3 separate regions of the Homo sapiens genome follow, and regions 1 and 3 are each linked to region 2. The links come from fine-mapping of genetic effects on gene expression. A gene starts in region 2. Each other region holds a variant in brackets. All regions are shown on one strand. Distances are from middle to middle.

Region 1 (10,761 bases), 110 kb before region 2:
TGGAGATGTATGTCATCCAACTCAAACCTGGTCATCCATCTGGCTGGACATGAAGAAGGTCAATGTTAATCACAGACCTCAGAGCAAGAGGCAGGAGCCGCAGATGTCATCTGCTCCAAACTCACTTTCATTGTCCTCTTTTATTTACCTTCACCATTACTTTTTATATTTATAAAAGAAATATCCTAATCCTTAAAAAATCAAAGATTCAAAAGATTAAAAACTAAAAACTAATGGTCACCCCACCTCCAATGTCCACATGTCAATTTACATGTAAATTTGCTTATAAGTGTGCATACACTTAGAATTTTTAAAAAGCGTAAATGAAATCATGCTGTAAATATTGCTCATCCTTTTTGTTAAGAAGAAACAAAAAATACAATATGGATATCTTTCTGTGTCAACAGCATACACAGTTTTACCTTGTTCATTTTATTGTTGTTGCTGTAGCAGATTTTACATTTAGCACACAATCCGGTTTAAATTCAGGCACTGGGCTGAATACGAATAACATAGAAATAACTAAAATATTGTTCACAAGACTTTTGTTTTTACTGATAATTTTTGAATGAGATTATTTTTCTTTGTATACATTTTACTGAATTATAACACAAATCCTTTAAAAAGCACAAATCTTAAAAACACAACTGGATGCATTTTGACAAAGTAAATGTACCCGTGTGACCAAAACTCAGATCGGGAACAGAACATGACCAGATTCTGAAGCCACTTTAGGCCACTTTCCGGTACTCACTCTCTACCTCCCGACCCTTCCACCCCACCCAGTGGGAACCGTTCCCCTGCCTGTAACAGCATGGCTCAGTTTTGCCTGTTGAACTTGATACATTTGGACTCAAACAGCAGGCACTTGTATTAGTCAGCTCAGGCTGCCATGACAACAGACTGGTGGCTTAAATGACAGAAATGTATTTTCTCACCATTTGGATGGCTGGAATTCCAAGATCAGGGTGCCAGCATGGTTGGGTTCTGGTGAGGGCTCTCATCCTAGCTTGTAGATGGCTGCCTTCTTGCTATGCCCTCATGTGGAGAGGAGAAAGAGAGAGAGCAAGCTTTCTTCTGTCTCTTAGAAAGGCACTAATTCCATCCTGGGGACCCCACCCTCACGACCTCATCTAAACCTAATTACGTCCTAAAGACTCCATCTCCAAATACTATCACATTAGGGGGTAGGGCTTCAACAGATGAATTTTCAACAAAAGAATCTGGCTTCTTTCACTCAACATCATGTTTGTAGAATCACCCACGTCATCTCAGTTTCCTTTATTTCTAACACTTCGTAGTTTCCCATTGTAGGAATGTATCATGATGTATTTAACCATTCTCCTCTCAATAGACACCCAAATTGTCTCCTACTTCCCTGCAGTTACACTGCTGTGGTTTAAAGATAGCCTTGTACTTATGTCTACACATGTGTGTGTGTTTCCATAGGGTAAATTAGTAGGAATAGAACCGTAGCACCTCACTTTACAGACAGATGCCGGAGCTCCAGGGAAAATATAAATATCTCAATGTCTCAGTGGGTGTCCTCCCCAAGGTCTCAGTGTGCGGCCACTCCAAGATCACAGTGTGTGGCCTTCTCCCCAAGGTCTCAGTGTGTGGCCTACCCAAAATCAAAGTATGTGGTCTTCTCCCGGAGATCTCAGTGTGTGGCTTCCCCAGGATCACAGTAGGTGGCCTCTTCCCCCAAATCTCAGTGTGTGGCCTCCCCCAGATCTCAGTGTGTGGCCTCTCCAAGATCACAGTGGGTGGCCTCTTCCCCCGGGTCTCAGTGTGTGGCCTCCCCAAGATCACAGTGGGTGGCCTCATCCCCCAGTCTCAGTGTGTGGCCTCCCCAAGATCACAGTGGGTGGCCTCATCCCCCAGTCTCAGTGTGTGGCCTCCCCAAGATCACAGTGGGTGGCCTCATCCCCCAGTCTCAGTGTGTGGCCTCCCCAAGATCACAGTGGGTGGCCTCATCCCCCAGTCTCAGTGTGTGGCCTCCCCAAGATCACAGTGGGTGGCCTCTTCCCCCGGGTCTCAGTGTGTGGCCTCCCCAAGATCACAGTGGGTGGCCTCATCCCCCAGTCTCAGTGTGTGGCCTCCCCAAGATCACAGTGGGTGGCCTCATCCCCCAGTCTCAGTGTGTGGCCTCCCCAAGATCACAGTGGGTGGCCTCATCCCCCAGTCTCAGTGTGTGGCCTCCCCAAGATCACAGTGGGTGGCCTCATCCCCCAGTCTCAGTGTGTGGCCTCCCCAAGATCACAGTGGGTGGCCTCATCCCCCGGGTCTCAGTGTGTGGCCTCCTCAAGATCACAGTGGGTGGCCTCTTCCCCCGGGTCTCAGTGTGTGACCTCCTCAAGATCACAGTGGGTGGCCTCTTCCCCCGGGTCTCAGTGTGTGGCCTCCCCGAGATCACAGTGGGTGGCTTCCCAAGGTCTCAGTGGGTCATTCTTGCCCCCATTAGTCCCCACAACCTCTATCTATTTCATCCCTCTGAAAATATTGACTTGGAACTCGTTATGCACACAAACTAGTCGGAATCCCAAACATGCCTCGAATCCATTTTCTGATTGACATCAATGAGCTGACAGCGTGGAGAGAAAGCACCATTCCTTTGTTCAGAGCCAATCAGAAAACTGATAACACAGCCCCTCGCTCTTCTGTTTTTGTCAGAAGAATGATTGAAGGTAGAGCAGAAGACTCGGGAGGCAAACACACAGGCCAGGATTTCAAAACCCGCTCTGTTCTATCCTAAGTTCAGAATGCTGGGGAATGTTTCAGATATCTCCACTTTTTTTTTCTTCTCCTCCTACCACTGTGGAATAAGGGAAATTGAATTTCAAAAGAATATTATTCTAACTAAATATAAGCCTGTGCTGCTATGAAAACAAAGTTTCTAGTTGTTGGGTGGTTTGTTCTGTTTTTTAATAATTTGTGTCCCACTTCAACAATAACCAAGGAAATTAAGATTTTAAGAAAGAGAGAGAGACAAAAAGAGAAAGAGAGAGACCAGGTTTGTGCAAATCTCAAACAGAACACACAACTGAAAAGCCTTCATGTTTAGGTTTGAAATTGAGAAACTTAAACCTCTGGCAATATATACTCTCCCTCTTTTCCATGTTCTGCTAAAAGCAGCTAATTTTCCCATAAGCAAGTCTGGCAAGAAAAGGAACAAAGGTTTGGTCCAGGACACATTTTACTATTTATTCTTCTAACATACAGGAAATGAGGCCTCCTGGAACCTCGCTGCTGCCCGCCTCCTGGCCACCTCTGCCCTGTTTTGTGTTCCCAACCTGGCACAAAACCTGCTTATGGATTGAGCGTTCCAATTCTTGGACTCTCAGCCCCTCTTGACAGCACCAGGCAGTCACTGACTGTGACCCAGGGACGGAGCAACAGCCATTCCACAAACAGTCCTCATGCCCCACCATGTGCCCTAGGCTGGGGACACGACGGGGAGCGAGGAAGACACAACCCCTGCCCATGTGGAGCCAACATGATGGAAAGGACGAAAAGGCCACATCATCTCATTCGGTCCTCACTACAACCCTGTGAGTTGAGAATTGTTATTAGCCTCAGTTTATAAATGAGAAAACTGAGGCACAGGGAGGAAGTGACTTGACCAAGCTCCTACAGGTGGGAAGTGGTGGAGCCGGGATTTGAATGTGGGTTTTTCTGGCTCCCACGATGAGTCTGCCTCCTCTTCCATGGGATTTACCACTCTGCTTCATTTTTTGGTTTGTTTGTTTGTTTGTTTGTTTGTTTGTTTGAGACAGAGTCTCACTTACTCTGTCACCCAGGCTGGAGTGCAGTAGCACAGTCTCAGCTCACTTCAACCTCCACCTCCCAGGTTCAAGTGATTCTCTTGCCTCAGCCTCCTGAGTAGCTGGGACTACAGGCATGCACCATCACACCCGGCCAATTTTTGTATTTTTAGTAGAGAGAGGGTTTTGCCATGTTGGCCAAGCTGGTCTGGAACTCTTGACCTCAAGTCATCCTACTGCCTTGGCCTCCCAAAGTGCTGGGATTACAGGCCTGGACCACTGTGCCTGGCCCACCACCCTGTTTTATAATTACCTCCTTTCTTAGCTCTCTTTCCTGATTGACTCTAGACTTCAGGATAGCATCTCAGGCATCTTCACATAACTGACACTGCACTTGATGAGTATTTGTTGAATAGGTGAGTGGATGAATAATCAATCCAAAGGGTGGTACAAGTCATGGAAGGTTAGGAGGCAGAGGAGTAATACAAAGTGGCATGAAGAAGCCCAAGACTCAGCCCCTACCCTCAAGCAGCTTTCAACCCAGGTGGGACGGCATGACATGGACACGTGGAAGTTCTCTAGCACTGACAGGCCACCCTCCATGAGGTGTTCCATGCTCATAGACAGTGGGTACGACAGGAGGTCAGATGAGCCCACTCTTTTCTGGGAAGGGGGAGATCAGGAAAGGCTGCCTGGAGGAGGCGAGGCTGACACTGGGCACTGAAGGATGAAAAGAGTCAAGTACATGGAGAAGAGGAGGGAACAAAGGCTGACTACCGAAATTATGCTCTTTCTACCACATCCTACCAAGAGGTGAGTATAGAAGGAAGGGAAGGAGGGAGGGAGAAAGGAAGAAAAGCCTTCACTATGGTAACACATGGAGGATTCAGTTCTGTAGACTCCGACACCCTGGCCTCCCTCTTGCTCAGCAGAGAACCAGGCATGGCGCCACCCTCGCTCTCCAGTATGTGTGCATATCTGCTGGTATCAGCAGGCAGTGGGGCTGTCCCAGTCTCTTCCCAGCCTCCACGCCTGCATAGCCCTGCATGGGCAGGACCGTAGGCACCCTTCTCCCCACGACAACTCCAAGGCTGGCCCTCCCTGTTCTTCCCATGTGTGGGGAGACAGTGAGGGAGGTGAGAAGAGCATCCACTCTGCAGTGAATGGGCCTGGGGTCAAACTGCATCCTAGCTGGGTAACCCTGGGCAGGTCACTTAACCTCTCTGACCCTCAGCTTCTACATCAGAAAACTGGGGATGACCCTCATGGAGATATTTATTACAGGCTAAGAGATGACGACATGTGTAAGCAGTTAGCGGAGTGCCTGTGGCTAGCAGAATCTCAGTAAGTGGAAGGCATTGCTATGAGTAGAATTGCTGTTATTCATATCGAATTAGGTGGTAAAATTAAACCTTTATTGCTCCTTGCGTGACCACTTCAGAAACTCTCTCAGAGTTTCTGGCTAGAGGAGAAAGAGGGGGTACTCTGGGCCTTTCTGGAACACCTGGTATCCTTGCCAGGGCAGCTGGTCCCCAAGGGGCAGGACTGTTTGCTTTCCACTTGCTTGCCGCAGACCAGCCTCCATTGGCGACTGGCTTGGGCCGCCAGGCTGGGTGGGGCAGGTGCGTAAACTCTGTGATGCATTCTTGGGCTCCCCAAGGTAAAAATAGTTTTGCTTTGTTCGGCCGGGTGGTTTACACACTCGTTGGCCTGGCAACCTGCCCACTGGAAAGGCAAAGGCCAGACTATTTCTGGCTGCAAAAACAAGCCCCCGCCAGGCCCCAGCGTCAAGCCTCCAGATAGCAGTATTAATATTCTGCTATCTCATTCTTTCAGGCCACAAAAAAACAGAGAAGAAAAAAAGCCTTGTGCCTGCATGACTTCTCCTTCTATTACCCACAATCACAGCTGCCACAGCTACTGCAGACAATGCCCAGGACTCTCAAATGTCACATTCCCCCAAACAAAACAAAACAAAACATAATAAAGGCTATAGTAGTCATA[T/G]TATTAACAATAACATCAACAAAGTACTTACCATACACAAAGCACTATGATAGGCATGTTGCTTCCATGTTATCCTTCCTTCACAGCAGCCCTAAGAGGTACTATTACAAGGCCCATTTTCTAGAAAAGGAAACTATGGTTCAGAGAGGTAAAGTCACCTGCCCAGAGTCACACAGTGAAAAATCAGCAAGGGTGAAATTCTAGCCCAGGTCTGCCTGACTCCGAAATCCATGCTGTTTCTTGGCGCCACTTCTCCTTACACCTTACTAAAGAAAACATGGATGTTTCATTGTCTTTCTTTGTGGTTGCTTTTTTTTTAAAAGTAACAAACCCCACTGGGGCATTTTCAGTGGTTTTCTGGTGTCATTTCTCCCACCTTAATTGCCTCCTCTCTTCTTTTCTCGACAAAATCTCCAAGCTTTACTTGTCTCCTGTCTTCCCTTTGGCCCATCAGATTCCCAGGCCTTTGTTCCCTCCGCCTCTCCATCCACATAACTTTTCCCATCCTTCAATGCCCCACTCCAGCCTCACCTCCTCCAGGCAGCCTTCCCTGATCTCCCCCTGCCCAGAGCAGAGTGAGCTCCCTTCTTTCTGACCTCTGGTCATGCACACTGTCTGTGAACATGGGACACCTCAGCAGAGGGGGCCTTTCAGAGTTAGAGAATTCCCAAGTCCATATCATGTCTTTCCAGCTGGGTTGGAAGAATCTGCTGGAGGCCGGGGGCTGCCCGTGCTTCTGTGTGTCTGCTCACATCAGTCCCCTGACCCAAACCCTCAATGGGCATGGGATCCAGTATTCATCCATCTACCATGCATCATCCGTCTGTCCATCCATCCATATATGTATTCATTCATTCAATGGGTATTTATTGTGTGCAGTGTAAGAGATATGGAGATTCATCAGATACCTGCAGTCAGAAGAGAGAGAGATAGAGAAGGAGGCAATTAGAACACAGTCAATAAATGCTATGGAAAGTGGCATGGGTTCATGGGAATCTTTCCAGGGAAGCAGACATCTGAGTTGGATCTTAAAGGGAGAATGGAGTTCATTAGGTGAAACTAGGAAACCATTCTTCAGACAGGCTCCTAACACATGTCCTCTAGGGTTTGACCTAACGTTCTTCCCATCTCATCCCCATCAGCCACTGTACCACTCGGGTCCCAACAGGGAAGCTAGTCTGCTCCAGTCAGATCCCAGGAGGCGTGTTAGTTTCCACAGGGACTACACAATTCCTAACAGGCAGGGTTGGGGACCACACAGGAGAGTGTGGTTACCTGGCTAGTTGTAATGCAGCCATTACCACTTGAAAAGGTGAGAGGAAGGAATTTATAGAAATCCATAAAGAGAGCGCTGGTTAGAGACCCCCTTGAGGGCACAGTGACTTTCCATCAAAGGAAAAGAGCAGCCCAAGGCAACCTTGCAGGCCAGGAGCCAAGATCAACACCCTGACCTCACTCGCCTCTCATCCACTTGAGGCAGAAACTTAAAATAAATATGCATTCATTCACTCCAAGAAAAGTAACAGGCAAGTCAAGGGTTAAGAAGAAAAGAACAAGTTTTCCTCTGTCTAGCAATCTCACTTCAAGAACAGTTATAAGATAACACTGTTTGAGAAGCCAAGGCCAAAAGAATGGGCTCCAGACAACCCCCTGCCAGAGCAAGATTGAAGGGAAAAAAAGAGAGAAAGACAAATTCCTTTATTGTTACTGCTCCTTTCCCTGGCTTCTTAAGTACAGCTGTGTTTTACAAATGTCTATATTTAGCCTGTTCTTGTTTTTCTTTCACAAGGCCAACAGCTATGCAGGGCCACAAGTTACGTTATGCTATAGATTATATGACCTATCATATGATTAGCTGCTTTTGTTTTGCTTCTGTAGTCAACTTATAAAAACTGTGCTCAGTCTTTGTTCAATGCTCAGCTTTTTGGATATGAATCCACTGAGCCGGTGAGTACCTAAAATAAACAATCCTCCTGTTCTCCGTATCAGTCTCTCCTGTCCTCAGTTTCCTGCAACACACTCATCTCTCACTGGCACCTCCCATTGGCCAACCCAGACAGAGCAAGGGGACAAGGCCAGGCTGCCAGGACAGTGAGCAGGATGTGAAGGGTAAAGGGTGACTCTGGAAGAATGGATGAAGCTGTCCAGCCCAGCTGGCCATGCATTTCTGGCTCTCATGCTCTTGGACTTACTGTCTGACGCCGAAGTCCATGCTGTTTCTTCTAGCCACTGCTCCTTACACCTTACTAAAGAAATATTTTACAATTGTAAGTAACCAGGCACTGTCCCCTGAATCCACTCTTGGCCTTCACATGCACCTCTGTGCTTTCACTCACTCTGTTCCCTCTGCCTAGAACTCCGTTGCCCAGCTTCCTAATCCACCAAAATCTCATTCATCTTTCAAGCCATGCCCAACAACTGTCTTTTCCTTAACTGCTCTGAAAGTATTCACTGTTTAACTTGTATGTCATTCTCTCACGTATCCTTTTCCCTCTACACCCATTAGTCTATGAGCAATTTAAGAGTGGATGCTATGGCTGATTCATCATTAAAATCCTAAACTTCTGCCTCCTCTAAGTCATGAACCTGGAAGCTGTCAGGAACTGTGAAGGCAATGAGATTTTACCCTACCTGCAAGCCAACAAGTCAGCCTGCCTGTTTCATGGATGCTGACAGGAGGCGTGAGAGACTCCCGAATCCGAGACAAAGGACTTTATTATCACAGCAACAGCAATAGCCAGACAATCAAGGTTTTTGCACCAGTGCCCTCAGCCTCAGTTTCCACAGGACCACATGAAGAGGGCCAGGTAATACTGTATATGCAGTGGGTTGCATTACAGAACAGCAATGCTTAGCTTGGGGAACCTGTTGTAAGTAAGCATACCGATATGGTTTGGCTGTGGCCCCACCCAAATCTCATCTTGAATTGTAGCTCCCATAATTCCCATGTGTTTTGGGAGGGACCCAGTGGGAGATAATTGAATCATGGGGATGGTTTCCCCTCATATTTTTCTTGTGGTAGTGGATAAGTCTCATGAAATCCGACGTTTCCCCTTTTGCTTGGCTCTCATTCTCTCTCTTGTCTGCTTCCATGTAAAACGTGCCTTTTGCCTTCTGCCATGATTGTGAGGCTGCCCCAGCCACGTGGAACTGTGGATCCATTAAACCTTCTTTTCTTTATAAATTATCCGGTCTCAGGTATGTCTTCATCAGCAGTGCGAAAGTACACTAATACACATGCCCACCTTTGTTCCAATGGGAGACACTCTCTCTGTCTCCCAAGAATGTTTGTTATGCAAAGATAACACAGAACAAAAGGCAGACAGTGCCTCTGCTTGCAAGACATGCAGAAATGAGAGAGGGCCATGGGGAATTGTCCTCTAACAAAACCTGTGTCCCCTAACAGAAGCTGAGTGTGAAATGCGCACCTTTGTCTCACTCTGCCCTCCTGATACCAAACGTCAGTACTGAGTGTCCAGTCAGAGCCCTGACCTGGTCCCTCCTGAGGTCTCCCTCCCAGTGAATGGCAGGACCCAGAGTGGCACTACTCACCCCACCTGTGAAGGGGGCATAATGACAGGAACTAGCTCACAAGGTTGTTGAGAAAATGAACTGAGTTTTTCCTGTGAAGTACTGAGGCAAGTATACAGCGAGTGCTATGTGTGTTAGCAAAATCAAGGAAGGAATGAAAAAGGAGAAGGAACAAGGACAGATATACAGAAGTAGAAGAAGGCTGAGCACCTAGACCAGAAAAGCCTGGCCCTACTCAGGAACAAGGAACAGAGTTACAGCTGTGAAACATCAGAGAACATCATTACCTACACAGCCCTGCTTTCCCCAGGCTCCAACAGGGCCACTTAGGCAGATGTCATTTCCTACCTTATTGACTCTGGTCTTCATCCCAAATCTGCACTCGCAGACAGGGATGTGATGACACCCACGTGGCTGAAGATGGCTCCAGGCTCCAGTGGTACTGACTTGGGACAAATTACCCACTAAAAACCTGAGATGAATGAAGCATTTTGGAATTTTTCCAAATGCAAAATAAGTACCAAGGCCATATCGATGCTACTATTCCTACTATCGTGTAGAGATTGATTTGCTCTCTTCAGCAGGCATCTCCCGGATCAAATCATTGGAAGATCACAGTGGCATTAATAAAAACAGCCACTGCCATGAGCTGAGCCTGATAATTAACGTGCCATGCTGAGCTGGGCTTTGCATGCCTGCTCCCATTTGATCTCCACCATAAATCCAGGGACAGCTATTATCATTATTATCCCCATTTTACAGCTCATAAAGCTAAAGTTCGTGGCACTGAGGTAACTTGCCTCAAGTACTAAGCTCAGATATAAACCAACATCTCAGATGTCTGACCGACCCCAAAGCCCAGGCTCTACCACACTGCATTATTCTGCTACAAGGAGCCTTGGAATTCACCTACCCCCTCCTGTCTGACATACAGAGAACAGCAATGCATGGGCTGAGCCCAAGGAAGTGCCTGGAACTGAAACTCTTTACTCTGGATTCAGACCCCTGTCTCTCGTCCTTTGTTCCCTGATAGTTTCATCAGGGCTTTGTGAGAAACAAACACAAAGCGACAGAAAAACACAGAGAAAATTAAGAAGGCGTGGTTGGCAGTCGGGGTCAGGTGGGGGCCACAGCAGTGGGGCGGGGTGGGGGGTGTCTGGCTGGGTGTGATATCTCCAGCCCAGGCAAGTCCAGGAATTCCAAGGTCAGTTAGACCAGCAATGTCCACCAGGGGGTGCTAGGAATGTGTTAATTGATTAACTAACTCAGCCTCCCCCATCCAAAGCTATTGGGACACACTGGTCCATAGACGCTCTTACCTTAACAAGGATTTCCCAACAACTGGTTTCCATAGGTACCACAGGGGACACACAGGTAACTGTAGAAGGCACACAGATAAATTTACGGAAAAATTCTTAGTAATGATGCGTGTCCCAAGACAATGTTGTTTTCTTCTAGCTGC
Region 2 (10,431 bases):
TGCAGCAGCATCATGAATCCCTGCCGGTCTGTGTTTGGATTCTTCTCAGTACCTGAGACAGAATGCTGAGGAGGACCAAGAGAAGCCCTGGGTTTTTCATGCAACACCCACCCTTCCCTGTGAATTCCTAAAGAAGCAAAGGGAAGTAGGACCTGAAATTCTTAAAGTCCTCTTCTTTCCCTGCCCCTTGGGCTTCAGCAGGAGCCCGTCTCTACTGAAGGTCTGGTCCCCAGGAAAATCCTCAGAGGACCACAAACACTCAAGAGGCCTATGACCTCCACTCTGGCCAGGATCTGTGTGTGTCTGTTTTTTCCTCTCTCTTTTGCTTCTAAGACAAAGAAATCAATTGTTGACGTGCTTTTAAAGTGTAGAAAAGATCTAAACTTCGCTTCACGGTACGTGTGACGTGTTGACCACACACTCTCCTTCTTTAGGGAGGACACACAGTGAGAAGAGGAGTGCAAGTGAGGGGGCTGAAAAGCAGGAAGCCATAGAGGAGGGAGCTGGGAGGAAAGGGAAGGAGAAAAATCACCAGAGACTCAAGACATGAATGGGAGAGGCGAGGGGACCCCAAGGAGAGAGGAGTGGAATGTCTGTTGAATGAATTAACTGAATGCTGAAATGTCCTCATTCTAAAAGCAAGACTAAGGCTCAAGGGGAATAAAGAGATCTCTCATCTAACATCCCAAAGCTAGTAAGGGCTGGAGGAGGACTAGACCCCACATCTCTCCAGTATCTACTCCAAAGGGTGCTGGTTTCACTTTCTTGATAGTTGGTGTTCGAGCTCCTCAAGACCTGGATCTGGTTTCTTCAGATCTGCCCAGGAAACAGGTGAGGCCTAAGGCCTTACTTAGAGACTTCCACTACTGGCTTTTGCCCAACCCCACTCCCTCATCATGTGTCCTTCATAAGAACCCTGGCATAGGAAACGTCAGCTGTGCCTCTGACTTGCTGTGTGACCTGGTGCAAGTGCCTTCCCCTCTCGGGGCCCTAGAACCCTCTCTGTAAGTTGTTACCAGGGGCCACAGGTGTTCGGTAAATATTGAATAACCAGTGTCTTGGCCACTAAAGCAAACACTGAGCTAACTGGGAGGGTTCCATAAAGCCTGGAGTCTGTGATTTTCAGAAAGGACCAAAGCAAAGTTACCAAACTGAATGAAAGCAGCTGGCACTGAGATTTCGGCTTCCCAGGATGCATGTATTTGAGACTATTGGGAGCAGTAGTAACTGCACACAGAAATGGGACATTTGCAGTGTCTGGAGTGCAGAAAGGGTGAAAGCAAATCCTTTGGTCTTTCTTTACAAACATTTGAAGTCCCCAGCATCCAGCACGCGTTATGGGATTGCCTTCAAACAAAAACTTATAAATCATTCACCACCAGCAATCACCCCCTCCTGGTCTTTCCAAATGAGCTACTGGAAAGGGGTTGGGGGGCAGGGAGTGACAGGAAGCTGCCTGGTGCTCTGTGCCTTGGGGACAGCCACCCAGCACCAGCCACAAACCCCAGAGCCCTAGGGTGCCTCTGTTCCTCCAAGCTTTCTCCCTAGGTCGCCCTCTTCTATGCCCTCCTCTTAGCTTTCTGGCACAGGCCAAGAATGGACAATTGCCCCACCTTCAGCCTTGTCCTCAGCAGTCCTCCTACCTGGAAGGCACATTCCCCACCTACAGAAATCACCCAGCCTCCCCCTCAAACTTGAATGTCCCCCTCAAGGCTTTCTTCTCTTTCCTCCAAGTGGAAGTGAAGTCTCAGTCCTGGGCGCTCTCCTCCCTAAGCCTGCCCACCACTCCTTGCAGTACTCACCTCTCTGCATGGAGACTCATCACCTCCACTCGATGAGGAGTTCAGGGATTTGTCTTCACCTCTCCCTTGGACTCCTCTGCCCCCCAACACCCCCTTCAACTACTAGGTGCTTGGTTGGACAAATTGCCACTCCTGCAAGGCTGTCCTTGTCCAAACCAGACTTCTTGGCTTCAGCTGGATTTCTTGAACTTAAAGTGGAAGTTCATCTTAACGTGAACTTAAAGTTGAAGGAGCTTGAGCTTGGCCAGGGGTTCCAAACTTACCTCCACCACCTCCTCCTAACCACGTGGGAAAGCAGATGGAGTCCCTTGAACCTGTTTCCACCACCACAGTAAACCATACAGCCCATATGCAGCCCAAGGACTGTGCTAAGGACTTTAACTGCATTTTCTCGTGGCATTCCCCTATGCCTGGTGACAGTTGGTACTTTTATCCTTATTGCCACCTTACAGAAGAGAAAGTGGAGGCTCAGGGAGGTTAATTGCCCTAAGTCACTTGGTCAAGGGATGACAGAGCAGTGACTCTGTGGGATTTCAAACCCGCTTATCCCCCAGGAAGTCCACAGACCCCTGGACATTCTGAGGCAGCAAGATAAGGGCCTCCCCCAGCCACCAGGCTCCCTCCTCCTGGGTCTCCCAGCCCTGGCTACCTTCCTTGGGCGCGTTGGCATCCCAGACGCTCCACATCTGCACGAAGAAGAAAGGCGTCCAGCACACGATGAAGGCCAGCACGATGATGAAAGTCATCTTGACCGTGCGGATCTTGGCCTTGGAGATGAGCTTGACGCTGCTGACACGCGCCAGGGCCACGCGCCCCCCATCGCCAGCCGCCGCGCCCTCTGGCGCCTCGGCCGCCGCCGCTGCAGCGGTCTTGAGCCGCAAGTTCTGCCAGATCTTGAAGCTGATAAGGCCGTAGCAGGCAGCGAGCACGATGACCGGCACGATGTAGACAGCTAGCGTGATCCATGTGATGTAGGCCTTGGGTCCCCAGGGCTGGATGAAGACGGCCCAGCAGTCGAAGACGCCGTCAGCCACCTCGCGCAGAGAGAAGATGTGCACCTGCGGCGCGCTGGCCACCAGGCAGCCGAGCCACGTGGCGAGCACTGCCAGGCGGTCGGTGCGGCGGCGCAGCGAGCGCAGCGGCTGGCAGATGGCCAGGCAGCGGTCCAGGGACATGAGCAGCAGCAGGTAGGTGGAGGCGAACATGCCCACCACCTGCAAGTACTTGACCAGGCGGCACAGCAGGTCGGGCCCGTAGAAGCGGAAGGTGATGTCCCACAGCAACTGCGGCAGCACCTGAAACACTGCCACCACCAGGTCGGCGATGCTTAGGTGCTTCATGAAGAAGAAGAGGCGCGAGTGCTTCTGGCGTGTGGTGCGCAGCGCCAGCAGCACACACGCGTTCCCGCTCAGCGCCAGGAGCAGGATGAGACACAGCACCGCCACCTCCACGCGCGCCAGGGCCTCGTTGCGCCGCGGGGGTCCGGCGGTGCGGTTGCCCTCGGCCCCCGGCGGCGCGGCGCTGGCGTTGGCTGCCTCGGCGCTCCAGTTGGCTGCGAGCGCGCCCTCCATGACCCTGGCGGCAGCGGTGCGCCCCGGCCTTCGAGCCCTTTACGGCTTGGCGCGGCTGGGCCGGATCCGGCGTGTCGGAGGGTGTAGGGGCGCCCGGGGCTCCACTCCTGGAGACTCCACGGACGGATCTGCTGGGTCCACCCTGAAACAAACCGGGAGGGCCGTGAGGAGACCGCCGCGTTTCTCTTCCGACGCGGGTAGGGCGTGCTTGTCCCATTCCCAGGAACCCAACTCATCTGAAACAACAGGGCACAACCGCCGGCCTCGGGTTGCTCAGCCGCCACCCCAGAAATCCCCGTTGGAGGTACCTCCTCTGAGCCACTGCAAATGAGCGGGAATCCTCTACCGGCCACAAGCCCAGAGCCCCCAGCGTGCCAGTTCCTCGGGATGTTCAGCGGCTTCCACTGGGGGAGAAGGGAGGGTCAAAATCAGCAACGTTCCTCCGGGAGTGGGAATCTAAAACCAAATCACCTCCCCGAGGGAATCTCCAAACTACCTACTCGCCCCAGGCTCCGACCCTCAGCATATCCACCTGCCGCGGGACCCCCAAACCAGCCCCTCTCCTAGTAAACATTAATTCAAGTACTTCCTCCGGAAATCCCCAAATAGCCACTTGCCTGGGAAACCCCAGCTCTGGTCCTTCCCCGTCTAACCCCCTTTTCTAAGACGGTCGGCCGTCACTCCCTGAACTTCCACAGCACCTGCTTCGGTGGAAACCCGGTTCTGCAGTCCCTGCTGGGGGAACCCCTGCCTCAAAGCCCAAGATGCCCAAGCGCTGTTCCCAGACCCTGGCATAGACACCTCCCGCGGGGCTCCTCCCCAGCCCGGCAGCCTCGAAAGTTCTGGAACCCCTGACTTGCGCTTTGGACCCAGATAATCAAGGACTCTGAGTCTCAATCCCGAGAAGTCACTTTACAATCTCTCGGAACACCCCGAGCTCCTCCAGGAACAAGGAGTGCGAGGCACCCCACCACCTCCACTCGGGTCCCGATGGCTCCACCGGCCCTAGCCATCCCGTCCACCCCTGCTTAGCACCCAGCTACCTGCACCGAGTCCGCAGGCGAACCTAAAGTTGACTCCCCCCGGGGAAGTTGCACGGCGACTGACGGCCCCAGTGACGCGTGCGCTCCCGGCCCGAGTTGGGATGGCCTGCCGGCTGCACCTAATGTGATGCTAAGCTGAGGTCTCTCACTGGAGCCTCGGTTGGAATCCCCTCGCCGCAGCCTGGCTGGTCGCTGGATGGGTACAGGAGGCGAGCGAGGAGCGCCTCCCAGGCTGCGCGCGCGGACAGCGTCTGGATGCGGCGCTGTGCGCTGGGGCTGAGGCTGCACTATCGCACGGGTCCGCTAGGGGGCGGGCGAGGCCAGCCGCGCAGACCCCTCCGGAGCGGAGCTGGTTCGCCCAGCGTTGGTCCCAGAGCCTTAACAAATGGGTTTATTTTGCAGTGGTTTAAAACTGCGAGAGGGAGGGAACTCGTCAATAACCCGCCCGTTTCTTCCTTTCTTGGTTTAGAAGCTCTTGACTCCGAGACACATAGGAGGCTTGAATAATAATGTTCTTCCCCGGGTAGATAGTGATGAAGTTACAAAAGCATTTAAACTGATTATTTCCCAAAAATGATGTTAATTTTCAGGCTTTTCTCTCCCCCCACACCTCCAGCTTGATGTAGCGGCTTTAGCAGTGAACTCAAATAAGTCTTTGCTTTGGAATACTTTTGTTCCTATTCCCGTTAATGAGGAATTAGAAATGGCCTCTATTCTAAGCAGTGCTGGGAGAGGCGTTATTTTTTCGGTAGTTTTAGAGGAAATTCTGAAGCACAACACTGTCTTCATTTAAAGTGATTCTGCTTGTCTGCGCCCAAGAGCCGTTTCTGCCTCCTTGTCGCGCTTCGGAATTAAAATTCTAAATGATGCCAAAGGAAGATAAAATGTTAAAGACAGCTTCTCAGCCTCCCTGCCCCTTCTCTATTCTAAAATCATTTTTTGAAGTAATTTACAGTGGCCAAGAATTAAGTCAGAAAAAAAGGCCAGGATTCAAAAATAAACAGGGCTCTTTAAAATGCATTAAATGTGTATTTCCTCCTGACATTTCACTTCTCCGTCTTTTTATTATGTGGAGAGACTTGAGTTAGCCAAGGACTGGGTTTCCTTAATCCACAATTACAGCCCCATGCCGAGATATCCCAGGGGCCAACCTTACAGCACCTGGATCCCAGGGTTCTAGCTGAGTAATCATTCCAGAATGGGGCTGGGAATCTTGACAGCATTGCCAAGGGGTGGCAGGCAGTATTAATCAATATTAGTCAATAGTACCTATCGGCCTCGAAAATTACAGATTAAAGTTACAGACGACTCAGGTGAGAATGAAGTGACCTTGGGCAAGCCCCTTCTCTTTGGGCCTCAGTCTCCTCATATGTAAAATGAGAGCACTGGTCAAGATAGCTAATGTCTGAGGTCCTGTCCCTCTGGTTTTCTGAAACTGTATAATCTGTGCAATCTGAGGGTTCAATCCTAGCAGGTAAAACACCCCTGCCTCACTCCACGGCTGGATGAAGGCAGATTTTTCCCTATGAGCCCCTGACCGGTGAATGTGAGAAGGAAAACACTGGCCTGTAGAACCAAGCCTGCCCTTCTTTCTCCTGGAAGACAGCTGCTTTCTAGGGAGCAAGTTTACTGAGCCACTTCACCAAGGACAGACTCTTCTACCCTTTGTAGGGAAGCCTGCCTACCTGTGTGGTCCTCGCGTAGCCCGTGAGACAGCCTAATTCTGGATTCACCTAACAGGGCTATTTAGTCTCATGCAAAAGGTAAATTCTCTAACTTAGTTTTAATCTAAACAACAACAATAACAACAACAGTAATAGTGTGATCCCCATTTCCTGTCTTTTGTTTTATTTCTCATTGTGTGCAGAAACCAGGCAGGAAATAGAGAGGTCCCCTTGAAAACTCCTAACAATGAATAAGACATGCTCCTTCACCTTTGAGCTTCGGCCAGGGAGAAAAACACATATTAGATTGGTGCAAAAGTAATTGTGGTTTTTGCTATTAAAAATAATGGCAAAAACTGCAATTACTTTTGCATCAACCTAATATTTGCAGTGTGACAACAATAAATGATGTTACAGAAGTGAGGACTGCTGGGGGCTGAGGTAATACTTGGGAGATCGTTTTACAAAGAGGTAGCTGGATTTCAGAGCTCCAGAATGAGTTCTCCAGGAAGCAAAGAAAAAAGGCATACTTCTCAGAGAGTGGTGCAGGGGAATCACTTTGGCGTTTTGGAGGAAGGACTAAAGATGAATTGCTTGGTGCCTAGCACATTGCCAGCACTTAATACATACAGTTGGCCCTCTATATCCCTGTATCTGTGAGTTCAGTGGATTCAAACAATCATGGATTGAAAATATTCAGGAAAAAAAATCCTCAAAGTTCCAAAAAGCAAAAATTGAATTTGTCATGTGCCACCTACAACACTGAATGCACACAAATGCAGTGACGAGTGACATTGCATTAGGTGTTACAAGTAATCTTGAGATGACTTAAAGTATGTGAGAGGATATGCACGTGTTATATGCAAATACTGCTTCATTTTATATCAGGGATTTGTGTACCTTGAAGGCTCCCGGAACCAATCCCCCATGGATACCAAGAGATAACTGTACTTATTGATGCTAAAGGAACTTCAAGGCCATGTAAAGGAGAATGGGTTTTATTCTGTAACCCAACATTCCCCAAAATATGGGATGGAATACTTTCTGATAGTGTTAAATGTGAATTTAATATTGAGTGATACTGAATAACAGGGAGGAAATTCAGTTCTCAGTTCTGCTTACTTTTGACGTCAGCAAAGAGAAAGTCTGATATAACAAAAATCATGAAGGTGCTAGTGTAAAGATGACTGAGGTTAGAAGGCATTGGTGGGGAAGGTGGGGTGCCTGGAAGGACTGCAAGCAAAACAACGTACTCAAATCTGTGCTTGGTGAGAGAATGCTGGTAGCCACAGGGAAGATGGGAAAGGAGATACTGGCATTATGAAGGCCTTGGAGATCCAGGCAAGAGATGCTGTAGGCATGGACAAAAGATGTGACATTACAGGGTGTCTTTCGGTCTTCCAAAGAAACAGAACCATTGGGATGTATATATGTAGAGAAAGAGATTCATTTAAGGAATTGGTTCATGTGTTATGGAGGCTGGCAAGTCCAAAATCTTCAGAGTGAGCTGACAGGCTGGAGACCCAGGGAAGAGCTGATTTTGCAGGTCAAGTCCAAAGGTCCTCTGCTGCGGAATTCCTTCTTGCTCAGGGAGGTCAGTCTTTTGTTCCATATAGACCTTCAACTGATTGGATAAGCCCACCAACGTTATGGTGGGTGATCTACTTTGTTCCAGATGTTAATCTCATCCAAAAATACCCTCACAGAAACATCCCGAATAATATTTGACCAAATATCTGGGCACCATGGCCCAGCCAAGCTGACACACAAAATGAACCATCACAGACAGAGATTCAGCAATCCCTGATTTACAAATGTCTTCATCTGTCTGAGTATCCGGGCATCTTTTTTTTTTTTTTATTTTAAGTTCTGGAGTTCATGTGCAGTATGTGCAGGTTTGTTACATAGGTAAATGTGTGCCATGGTGGTTTGCTGCACCTATCAACCCATCACCTAGGTATTAAGCTTAGCACATATTAGCTATTTTTCCTGATGCTCTCCCTCCCTCTGCCCCCGTGACAGGCCCCAGTGTGTATTGTTCCCCTCCCTGTGTCTGTGTTCTCATCATTCAGCTCCCACTTATAAGTCAGAACATGTGGTGTTTGGTTTTCTGTTCCTGTATTAGTTTGCTGAGGTTAATGGCTTCCAGCTCCATCCATCCTGCAAAGGACATGATCTTGTTCCTTTTTATGGCTGCATAGTATTCCATGGCATATATATCTATATATATCTATATATATATATATCTATATATATCTATATATATATAATCTATATATATCTATATATATATAATCTATATATATCTATATATATATAATCTATATATATCTATATCTATATAATCTATATATATCTATATAATCTATATATATATAATCTATATATATCTATATCTATATAATCTATATATATCTATATATAGATTATATAGATATAGATATATATATATATATCTCACATTTTTTTCTTTATCCAGTCTATCATTGATGGGCATTTGGGTTGATTTCATGTCTTTGCTATAGTGAATAGTGCTGCAGTGAACATACATGTGCAGGTATCTTTACAATAGAATGATTTATATTCCTTTGGGTATATACCCAGTAATGAGATTGCTGGGTAAAATGGTCTTTCTGGTTCTAGGTCTTTGAGGAATTGCCACTCCATCTTCCACAATGGTTGAACTAATTTGCATTACCACCAATAGTGTAAAAACATTCCTATTTCTCCAGATCCTTTACAGCATCAGTTGTTTCTTGACTTCTTAATAATCACCATTCTGACTGGCATGAGATGGTATCTTATTGTGGTTTTTATTTGCATTTCTCTAATGATCAGTGATGTTGACCTTTCTTTCATACGTTTGTTGGCCACATAAATGTCTTCTTTTGAGAAGTGTCTGTTCACGTCCTTTGCCCACTTTTTAATGGGGTTGTTTTTTTCTTGTATCCAAGCATCTTAAAGGTGGGGCCAATATTGTCTATACCTGTACTTCGAAAGGCCTAGGTCACTATAGAATAGGCACCTTTCAGGTATTTGTTAAATACAGAAGGATAAAAGGAAGGGGGAAAGGAGGGAAGAAATAAACATCTCCATGGGCAGAACCAGGCCCTCTGGGGAAGGTATCCTGCCCAGAGAATGACCTGTCCTGTACCCACTTCTGCCTCTGGGAACTGGGTCTGAGTTTTAGCATCTTGGGAATTTTCCAGCCCTGGCACATTTATTTCAACATGGATCCAAGCCCAAGCGGCCTTTGCTCTATTGTCAGAGTGGAAATGAGCTATAAACACATCCAACCTACCCCCTCCCTAACATCACCGCCTCCCCAGCCTGCCCCCAAATAACTTCTCAGCCTCTGCTTGGGCTCCTAGCTCCAGGAGGGGGGTCAGTGACATGCTCTCAGGCATAAAGGCTGAGAACACATTGTAGCAATCAGCCTGCTGCTGGCACACTTGATCTTCTTACATTTATAGCTCTGTGCGGATGCAGGCACATCAGGGCACATGGGCTGACCTGGGAAGTTCCTGAGGCCGTGCCAGGATGCTGTGTCAGGAGGCCACTGCTTATAGGTAGAACTTGCACGGATTCCTTCTAGCCTGTGTGATTTTGGACTTCCCAGCCTTTGTTTTCATTCCTGTGTTCCATGCAGGGTGGAGAAAGAGAGAAAAATGTGCTTTCCTATTGGAGAGAGCTCTGAATCTGCAGCAGTAAGTGCTTGCTAGCATCTGGATTTTACCACGTTTTGTCAGCGTGGCTAAGGTACTGAACTTCTCTGAGACTTGGTTTCCCCAGGTGCTGATCACATGAGGCTGTGTGTATAAACCAAACTTAATGCACATGAAGAGTGCTTCACAAACAGCAGAGAACTATACAATCAAATCTTTATTCCCATGCTGACAATCCTGACCCCAGGACCACTCCATGAAAATAGTGTCTGATCCAATCAACCTCCATCTTATTAGTCTTTCTGGATGGAGTTCATAATATTTTCAATTTAATCAGACAAACTGCATCTTGGAAGGTAGGGGGAATGTCACTGTGCCAGGCAAGGAAAGTAACTCCTTTGAACCCTAACTGGTGAGATGGGGATACTGACTCTTTACCTTTCAGGGAGGCCTTTCCTGACCACCCTGGCCCACTGAGAAATCATTATTTTCTGAACCTCTCTAGCATGACCAAAAACTATATTTACAGTATGAATGTGCTCAGTCTTCCCAATCCAGTTATAAGTGCCTAGAATTAGTCCCATATATCACAGTCCTTTCTATATTTGCCCATCATTTTCCTATCATGCATGCCTATGAATGAAAATGTGTTGAGAAAATGGCTGATGGATTACCCAAGAACACCC
Region 3 (10,761 bases), 160 kb after region 2:
CACACCAGTTAGAATGGCAGTCATTAAAAAGTCAGGAAACAACAGGTGCTGGAGAGGATGTGGAGAAATAGGAACACTTTTACACTGTTGGTGGGACTGTAAACTAGTTCAACCATTGTAGAAGTCAGTGTGGCAATTCCTCAGGGATCTACAGCTAGAAATACCATTTGACCCAGCCATCCCATTACTGGGTATATACCCAAAGGATTATAAACCATGCTGCTATTAAGACACATGCACACATATGTTTATTGTGGCACTATTCACAATGGCAAAGACTAGGAACCAACCCAAATGTCCAACAATGATAGACTGGGTTAAGAAAATGTGGCACGTATATACCATGGAATACTATGCAGCCATAAAAAATGATGAGTTCATGTCCTTTGTAGGGACATGGATGAAGCTGGAAACCATCATTCTCAGCAAACTGTCGCAAGGACAGAAAGCCAAACACCGCATGTTCTCACTCATAGGTGGGAACTGAACAATGACAACACTTGGACACAGGAAGAGGAACATCACACACTGGGGCCTGTTTTGGGGTGGGGGGAGTGGGGAGGGATAGCATTAGGAGATATACCTAATGTAAATGACGAGTTAGTGGGGGCAGCACACCAACATGGCACATGTATACATATGTAACAAACCTGCACGTTGTGCACATGTACCCTAAAACTTAAAAAAAAAAAAAAAAAAGAATGAAAGTCTTAAGGTCCTTCCATTATACATGAAGTAGTGTACTATTCATTGAAGGTAGACTGAGATAAGTTAAAAATGCATATAGTAAACTAGAACAATCACCCCTACAAAAAAACAAAAAGAAGTATAGCTCGTAAAATGAAGATAACATAAAAAACTAAAAAATACTCAGTTAATCCAAAAAAAAGCAGGAAATGAAGAAAAAACAAAAGAATGATAGAACAGCAAACAAGCAAGATGGCAGATATAAACCCAACCAAATAGAATAAATGAAATTAAAATAGTTTAAACCCTACAATTTAATGGTAGAGCTTGTCAAATTAAATTATAAAATAAAATCCAAACCATATACGGCTTACAATAAAACACAGCTTAAACATAATGGTATAATAGGTTTAAAGAAAAATGAAATAAAGTAGCTGCTATACTCATATCAGATAGATTTTTGAGGCAAGGAATATTACCAGAGACAAAGACATATATGCCATAATAATAAACAGGCTAACTAATCAAGAAGATACATAATAATACTAAGAGATTCAAAATATAACAAAACTGAAAATATTGACAGGGAAAATGAAAAATCTATAAATATAGTTGGATATTTCAAAAAGCTTCTCAGTAATTGATAGAATCAGTAAACAGAATATCAGCAAGGATGCTGAAGACTTGAATATACTATCAAGTAAATTTACATAGCATTTACAGATCACTGCACAAAAAAGCAAACTTTTCAAGTATTTATGCAATATTCACCAGGAAGACCTAACACCTAAGTTATGAAGCATGTCTCAGTAAATGTGAAAGGTCTGAAATGATACAGAACAGGTTCTTTGGCCAACATTGAATTAAATTAGAAATGAATAATAAAAAGGTATCTAAGAAATAACCAAAATCTTTAAAAATTAAACAATACTTCTATTTAACATATGAATCAAAGAAGAATACACAACAAAAATTAGAAAATATTTTAACTGGATGGGAAGGTAAATACAACCTATCAATGTCTGTGAATAGAGGTAAAATAGCACTTAGACAAAAATCTGTATTTTAAATACATCGAGAACAATCTGAAATTATCTAAACTTCCACCATAATAAGCTAAAAAAAGAAGAGCAAATTAAACCTAAAGTAAGTAGAAAGAAGGAAATCATAAAAGACTGGAATTCAATGAAATAGGAAAACAGACAAAAACTGAGAAAAAGCAATTTGAGAAAAATGAAGCTGAAGGATGATTCTTTAGAAAAACGAGAAAAATTAATAACTTATAGGTAGAACAATCAGGAAAAAAGAAGACACATTTTCAGTATAGAAAATGAAAGACAGTAAATCACCACAAACCCCATAGATATTAAAAGGTTAACAAGAAAATGTTACTTAAAAAAACAAAAACAAAAAGAACCCTCTGGCTATAGATTCAACAACTTAGATGAAATGAACACATTCCTTGCTAAAGATGAATGGTTAGTTTAATATTCAAAAATTAATCACTGTAATGTAAATCAATACCACACCCACTAGGAAAAAGACAGACTAACAGGTGTTGGCAAGGACATGGAGCAACTGGAATTAATTTTTTTTTTTTTTTTGAGACGGAGTCTCACTCTGTTGCCCAGACTGTAGTGCAATGGCACGATCTCAGCTCACTGCAACCTCCGCCTCCTGGGTTCACCCAATTCTCCTGTCTCAGCCTCCTGAGTAGCTGGGATTACAGGCGCCTGCCACCACGCCCAGCTAATTTTTTGTATTTTAAGTAGAGACGGGGTTTCACCCTGTTGGCCAGGCTGGTCTCCAAATCCTGACCTCAGGTGATCCACCTGCCTCGGCCTCCCAAACAAAGTGCTGGGATTACAGGCATGAGCCACTGCGCCCGGCACAGCTGGAACTCTTATACACTGCTAGTAGGATGTAAAATGGTGTAGCCACTTTGGACAATAGTCTAGCAATTCCTCAAAATGTTAAAATAGAATTACCATACTACTCAGCAATTCTACTCTTAGGTAAAGACACAATAGAAATGAAAACATATGTCGACATAAAAATTTGTACATAAATGTTCATAACAGCATTATTTATAATAGCCAAAAAGTGGAAAAATGTCAGATTTGAACTAATGAACAGACACAAAGATGTGACATATTCATACAATGGAATATTATTTGGCAATGAAAAATAAGTGAGTATTGACCACAGATAAACCTTGAAAACATTATACTAAGTGAAAGAAGTTAGTTTATAAAAGGCCACATGCTATATGGTTCCACTTAAATGGAATATCCAGAATAGACAACTCTATAGAGACAGAAGTAAATTAGTGGCTATCTAGGGCTGGAAGGGTTGGTAGATAATGATGCTAATGGATACTGGGCTCTTTTCAGGGTAACAAAATGTTCTAAAATTTAATATGATAGTTGTACAACTCTGTGAATATACTGAAAACCACTGAACTGTATGTACACTTCAGGTGGGTATGAATTATATCTCAGTATTATATGAATTATATTTCAATAAACTGATTAATACTCAATGTTATAAATCATATCACAAAATAAATAAAAATATAATAATCTCAATAGATGTAGAATAAGGAAATGACAATTCAACACGCCTTCATAATAATAAACTAGGAAGGGAAGAAATGTCCTCAACCTCATAAAAGGCATCTATGAAAACCTATCACACTTAATAGTGAAAGACTAAATGTTTTACCTATAAGTTGGGGTATTCCAGAATTAAAAGAACATATATTGATGCAATAGTACTGTCACTCAAATGATTTTTGAAGGCAATTATTCTTCCTTCTGGGGAGACAGACCCTTGAAAAATCAGATGAAAGTCAGAGATCCTTTCTTAAGAAATTCATTTAAAAAAAAGATTGGAGAAAGGAAAGGATGTTTGCCCACACCACTTTTATTCCACATCACACTGGAGGTTCTAACCAATGCAACTAACCAAGGGTAGAAAGATAAATAAAAGGCATATCGACTGAAAAAAATAAATAAATAAAACTGTTTTTATTGGCATGTAACTTGATTGTGTATATAAAAATCCTATGAAATCTATAAAAAAGCAATTAGAAATGAGTTTCACTAGTTAATAGTATACAAGTAAATATACAAAAATAAATGTCAAAATGACTCTTTAAAATAGTAATAAACAATGAGAAATAAAAATTTTAAAACTACTCACAATAGCACCAAAAGACATGAAATATTTAAGGATACATTTAACAAAATACATGGAACACACACACATAAAAAAGTAGACAGCACTACTGAGAGAAAGTAAAGGAGGCCTAAAGAGCCATACCACGACTGTGCATTAAAAGTCTTAATATTGTTAAGATATCATTTCTAAGCTGATCTATGTAATCTCACTCAAAATCCCAAAAGGTACACACTAATAAACTGACTGCCCTGCAGATGCTGTCCTGGACCTGCCAGCTGCACAGATGCAGATGCTCTGCTATGCCTGTAACATCGGGGCGAAGTGAAAGTGGCTATTTCTACACTCAGTGTTCAGAAAACACTGAACAACAAGAATGGATAATAGCCTGACATTTCTTAGGGGAACAACAACAACAAAACTGAGTCTAACATTTATGTGGGATTGCAAAGGACCTAGAACAATTTTGAGAACACAGTTGAAGGACTTATACTACCTGATAATTTTAAGACTTACTATAAAGTTACAGAAATCAAGAGTGTGTCATGAGTGAAAGGACAGATATATAGATCAGTGGAACAGAATAGATTCTAGATAGATTCACATGCTATATACATGGCCGTTAGGATTTGACAATGAGGGCAAAGTAATTCAATGGGGAAAGGATAGTCTTTTTAACAAATGGTGCTGAAAAACTAGATATACATATTTTTTAAATAAACTTTGACATTTGACATTTACCTTCCACCATACAGAAAAACTAAATGAAAATGGATCATAGATTTAAATATAAAAGCGAAAATTATAAAACTCCTAGAAAATAACACAGGAGAAATTTTTTGTGATCTTAGGATAAGCAAATATTTTGTTGACATGCAACACAATTGTATACATAAAAAATCATGAAATGATACACAAGAAGCATAAATCATAAAAAAAGTAAATTAAATTTCGTCAAAATTAAAACTCTCTGCTCTTCAAAGACATCATTAAGAAAATGACAAGGTAAGCCACATACAAAGATAAAATATTCACAACACATATATTTTAAAAATTCAGTATCCAGAATATATAAATAACTTACAAATCAATAAAAAGAGTTAAGGGGCAGAATATTTCAACCAAGCCTTTATCAAAGAAAATATACAAATAGCAAATAAAACTATCAAAAGACAGCAGACACCACTAGTCACAGGAAAATGCAAATTAAAACCATCATGAGATACCACTACTACACATTGACTAGAATGGCTAAAATTAAGAAGAATGAAAATACCAAGTGTTAGCAAGGGTGTGGCAAAAGTGGGACTCTCTCACAATGCAAAATGATTCAGTCATTTGAAAAACTGTATGGCAGGTTCTTATAGTTACATTTACCATATGACCAGCAATTCCACTCCACCCAAGAGAAATGAAAACATATGGTTACATAAAGACCTGTGAACCCATGTTCATAACAGCTTTACTGATAATAAAAAAACTGGACACAGTCCAGTTGTCCATCAACAGGTGAAGGGATATACAAATTGTGGCATGGCTATAAAGCAGAACACTGCTTGGCAATAAAAAATAAATGCACTGGCTGGGCACGGGGGCTCATGCCTGTAATCCCAGCATTTTGGGAGGCAGAGGCGGGCAGATCACAAGGTCAGGAATTCAAGACTAGCCTGGCCAATATGGTGAAACCCCATCTCTACTAAAAATACAAAAATTAGCCGGGCGTGCTGGCAGGCACCTGTAGTCCCAGCTACTCGGGAGGCTGAGGCAGGAGAATCGCTTCAACCTGGGAGACGGAGGTTACAGTGAGCCGAGATCGCGCCATTGCACTCCAGCCTGGCCGACAGAGAGAGACTCTGTCTCAAAAATAAATAAATAAATAAAATAAAATAAAAAATAAATGCACTACTGGTAAAAGCAACAACATGGAAAAATCTCAAAAGTATTATGCTAAGTGACAGATACCATATGTAAAATGCTACATACTATACAATTTGTGTAATTCCACTTATGTGACAGTCTAGAAAAGGTAAAATTATAGGGACAAAAAAAGAGATCAGTGTTTCCTGAGGTCTTAGAGTAAAAGAGAGGGAATATACAGCAAAGGGGCACTGGAACTTTTGCTGATGAAGGAAATGTTCTACATTTCAGTTAGAGCAATGGCTAAATGACAATATACATTTGCCTAAATTCATCTAACTATACACTTTCAAAGGATGTATTACATGTGAGTAAGTTATACATCAATAAAAAGGGCACATACAAAAAGCGACAAGCCATTGGATATAAGGAAACTATAGAAAAACCAGTTGTATTTTTGTGTACAAGCAACTAATAAAAATTGACATTTTAGAATAAAACATCGTGTACCACTGCATCAAAAATATCAGAGAATAACTCTTTAAAAAGATGTGTGAGACCTTCACACTGAAAATTGCAAAACATTACTGACAAAAATCAAAGACAAAAAAGGGGACAAACCATATTCATGAATTGGAAGACTCAAATACTATACAGATATCAACTATCTCAAAATTGATCTATAAATTCAATGTAATCCCAATTTAAAAACTTATATGGAAATACAAAAGGCCTAGAAAAAACAAGTCAACCTCAATAAACAAAACTGGAAGAACTATATTACCAGACAGCAAGACCTATTATAAATTACTCATAAAGTACTTAAGACACACATTATTTATCCTGCTCAACGGTAAATAATAGCCCAATGGAACAAAACAATGTCCAGGCCTACACATGTACAATTAGCTGATTCTCAGCCAAGACTTCTGGCAATTCAGTGGGAGAAGGGATGGCATTTCAAT[G/A]AGTGGTGCTGCATCAATTGGTTATTCATATGGAAAGAAAACAAGACAATCTTGTCCTCTACCTCACAACATATGCTAAAATCAATTCCAGATAAACCGTACATCAAAATTTAGGAGCAAGAACAATAAAGTTTTAAAAGAAAACAAGAGAAGATCCACATGATCTTGAAGTAGGCTAAGGCAAAGCACTGATCAAAAGGAAAAATGTAATGAATTGGACTATTTTAGGAACTTCTACTCTTCAATGATGCCATTAAGAGAGTGAAAAGGTGAAATTAGAAATGTACATACATCCAGCAAAAGATTTTTATCCAGGAAATTTCAATTACTCCCACAAATAAGAATAAAAATAGGCCCACAGAACAGAAGAATTGGACATAGATTTAAACAGGTATTTCACTACAGAGGACATCCAGATGGCCAACAAGCATATAAAATTTATAAGTCATTAAGGAAATGCAAATTAAAATAACAAGGTACTACCATGGACCCACTAGAATGGCTAAAATGGAGAGTTAACAGTGGTGATGTTGTCAAGGGTGCAGAACAACTGACACCCTCACACCCTCCTGATGAAAGTGTACATGACTACTGAATTTGGGGCTGTATCCATGAAAGCTGAATATCTGCAAATATATAACACCAATTCCATTCCTGTATATATATATCCAACAGCAACATGCACCTATGTGCACCACAAGATATATAAAAGATTATTTGTAGCAGCATTATTAATAGAGGAAAAGTGGGAACAAAATGAAATGTTTATTAAACACTGAATGGATAAGATGATACGTTTATACAATGGAATACCATATAGCAACAAAAATGAAAAAAACATGACCATATAAAAAAACATGAATGAATCTTATAATGTTGCACAAATGAGGGCAGGCACAAAAGAATACATAAGCTATTGGCCCTTTATTTAAAGATCAAACATAGGCAAAATGAACATATGGGGTTAGAAGTCAAGACAGTGGTCAAATGTGAGAATGAAGGAGTGAATGGGAGGGGGCAGATAGGGCTTTTGGGACGCTGGTAGTGATCTCAGTACTGGCTACAATGACATTTCACTTTATGAAATTTAGTTTGTGATAATTCACCAAACAATACACTTATAATTTGTGTGTTTTAATGTTTGCATGTTATTCTCCAAGTTTTTAAAAATTAGGCAATTCTATATGTTAATAGAAAGAACTCCAATGTATGTGTGTGGTTTAATGAAAAGAACCAACCACTAAATAGTGCACTACACAGAATACTATCATTTTGTAAAAACAGTAATGAAAAGGATATATGTTTGTGTACAATAATCATAATGGCAACATTTACTGAAAGCTAACTACTTGCTAAGGTACTGTGTTAGGCACTTTTCATGCCTTTTATCATTTATTTCACTCAACATTATGAAGTGGGTAGTTATTATAACCCTTATTTTATGAAGGAGAAAACTGAGGTACAGAGATATCAAGTAACGTGCCCACAGTCACCAAGCCACAAAGCTGAAAAACGGGCACTGTAACCCAGGCTCTCCAGATCCACTCTTCCCCACCACATTCTCCCTAGATAGGCACATGAGAAACTGGCAATGGGGTGCCTCTGAGAAGGGATCTGGGGATTGGAAGGCAGGCTGAGAGGAAGGCTGGCTTATCATAGCATACTCTAGGTACCTTTTGAAGGAACACATTTGCACGTCTTATCTATCAAAAATGTATTTATTTACAATATTTTTCTATGGTTTATAATTTCTGAGCTACACAAAATTGCTTTATCCAGAAAGTAAGCATAACTCACTGTTTTATTACTTTACCTGATTTAGGATGCAAAGCATCGCATTGGGCATTGTACATGTGTACAAATTCTTGGTGCCTTTTAATGAGCTGTTGTTTATTTCCTTGAATAGATAATCCATGCTCTTTTAGCTTTTTCTTTAAATCACGATCAGAGAGCAAATTATATACAGTTTTGGGCAGCGGCTTCCTTTTGTGAACAGAACTGAAAAGGGGGGAAGATACCTGATGATTATTGTGAATTATCAAATGCTTTTCATGTAAAATGGCAAATAAATTCTGATTCAACACCTGGGTGACCGGGAAAATAGTAGAACCATTAGATTAAAAAGGGGAGAGAAAAATCAAGTTTGTGGATAAAGTTGAGTGTCTGACATGATGTATCTGAGGTGCTGGTAAGACATTCAGACACAGGGGCCTAGGTGGCACCAGAAGTGAGAGACTTGGGTCTCAAAAAGAGGTCAGACCTAAAGAGGCACACTTAGAAGACATATATGTAACGCTTGTGGAATATGCTGTGAGGACTTCACTTAGAATCACACTTACATAGACCTATTCAATTTTCCACCTCTTTAAAGCATGCTAGAAATTCTAGTGGGCTAAAATTCAAGCTACATAAAAGTACCAATGACTTAAGCAATTCCATAAACAGGAACTTCTTAGTGAGTTTTAATTCATTTCACCTGATTATAGCAGGTTCTCTACCTGGCTCAGCTTTATGGCAATTAGATGCTTAACAAAAATGTGCTCAAGGAGGTCATTACACTTGCTATCATTTCAAAATAAGAATAGCAAAGATTCAGGTGAAAATTAACAGAAACTTGAAATAATAGGTTTATCCAAAAAACAAGTTTTTACAAAGGATTTGCATATAACTAGCTCACACAAGGCTGTCCCAAACGTTAGTGTACCTAAGAAGCACCTAAAGAGTTTATTTAAAACGCAGATTCTCCATCCCCTTCTCCACACCATCCACCAATTAGGGTTCAGGTCTGAAGTGGAGCTCTAAAATCTCTATTTTCAACAAGGTTCTCCAGAGTAAATCTGATATAAACGGTCCAATAATCAAACAGAGAAATATTACAGTCAGGTATAGACTGAAAACAATCAAAAATTTCTCTATTAACCAACAGAGCCATTCCCCAAATAAATTATGTCTTTTATGCTGTATTAACAAAGTCTAAAAGCCAGAAATAACTAATTAACTGTGAAAAGACCTGCAAACTCTCAATAGATTATATTTTTCTGAAAATTGCTCTTCTTACAATGACAACCCATCTGACTCTACAAGGTTGATAAAATTATGGCAAAATGAAATCTCAGTAGGTAGCAACAGCTGAATCATTTTGTGTTTACAGAAGCACACAGGGAGAGATGATTCATTACGTCTGTATCTAAAATATTTGTTTTATCAAGGACAGATGATTAAACTGTGACTGTGAAATTCCAGTGAAGAACTGTACTGTTCACTGGCATTTACAATAAAAAGCACCACCAGAGATCAACAATTTCTATCAGGAATTTTAAAACATGAAACCTGATAAATGTTTCCCCAAACACGAAAATGACATTGATTTTTCTTCCATGATTTAGTGGAACTGAGTAATACATTTAAGGGGCCTCAGAATCTGAGGCAGTTCTGACATGGTTTTATATAGAAGGGTTAAGGGCTGCCACTCACATTCAGCAGATGGCCTGTCAGAATATTGTGGAGGAGACAGGAAAACTCACAGGGCCTTTTCTCTATGACCTGACTCCGTGGCCAAGATACAACTAAAGAAGAACATGGCCCAGTGTTGTCTTCAGAATCTCCACAAACACCAGTTTTGTAAGATGGAAGTGATGAGAACAGAAAGGCTTGGCGGTCAAATAAATTTAGGATTACTAAATTAAACAAAACCTAACAGTAACCCTTAATGTAGGACTTCTCAAAGCCTTTAACACACTAAGAGGGGGATCCAGGAGGTAGTGCTTATAAGTTCACTACAGAGCACTGGCAGGACTATAGTGTTCTTTGAAGCAGGAATTTAAACCACTATTAGAACTTAATTACACATGGACGAGTATGTCTTCAAACAAACTGACAGCATCAGAAATGATGTATCAGAAATGTATTCGAACTGATGGATGGATCTAGAAAAAGGGGAGTCCATGCAAGATAATCAGTGCAGATTCCTTACTCTTCCAAAAGAATATACTCAGCTTCTATATTCCCAACTCATGCATTTCTAAAGAGAAAAGCAGTTCATCAAACTCTCGTGGCTTATGGGAAATAATCC

What was found.
Region 1: its variant is fine-mapped to the expression of OXTR in nasal epithelium (TOPMed, PIP 0.96).
Region 3: its variant is fine-mapped to the expression of OXTR in tibial nerve (GTEx, PIP 0.97).

What each region holds. Positions count from the first base shown.
Region 1 is chr3:8,653,126-8,663,886 of GRCh38, forward strand. It overlaps a transcript of SSUH2 not described here. Among named protein-coding and RNA genes, the nearest start is that of SSUH2, 14 kb to the left of the region's middle. RefSeq lists enhancers at 5,078-5,267, 5,418-5,467, 5,498-5,547 and a silencer at 10,464-10,553. The variant T/G (reference allele first, on the strand shown) is at 5,769.
Region 2 is chr3:8,764,815-8,775,245 of GRCh38, forward strand. OXTR (oxytocin receptor) reads right to left here and starts at 4,799. Exons shown (of 4, transcript NM_000916.4): 1 at 4,417-4,799; 2 at 3,682-3,777; 3 at 2,452-3,515. The coding sequence starts at 3,373. RefSeq lists enhancers at 2,251-2,922, 3,595-4,266, 4,914-4,963 and a silencer at 3,244-3,303.
Region 3 is chr3:8,927,369-8,938,129 of GRCh38, forward strand. It overlaps RAD18 (RAD18 E3 ubiquitin protein ligase), which reads right to left. Exons shown (of 13, transcript NM_020165.4): 7 at 8,503-8,687. It overlaps LOC124900561 (small nucleolar RNA SNORA43), which reads left to right and starts at 4,127; the gene lies at 4,127-4,264. The variant G/A (reference allele first, on the strand shown) is at 6,690.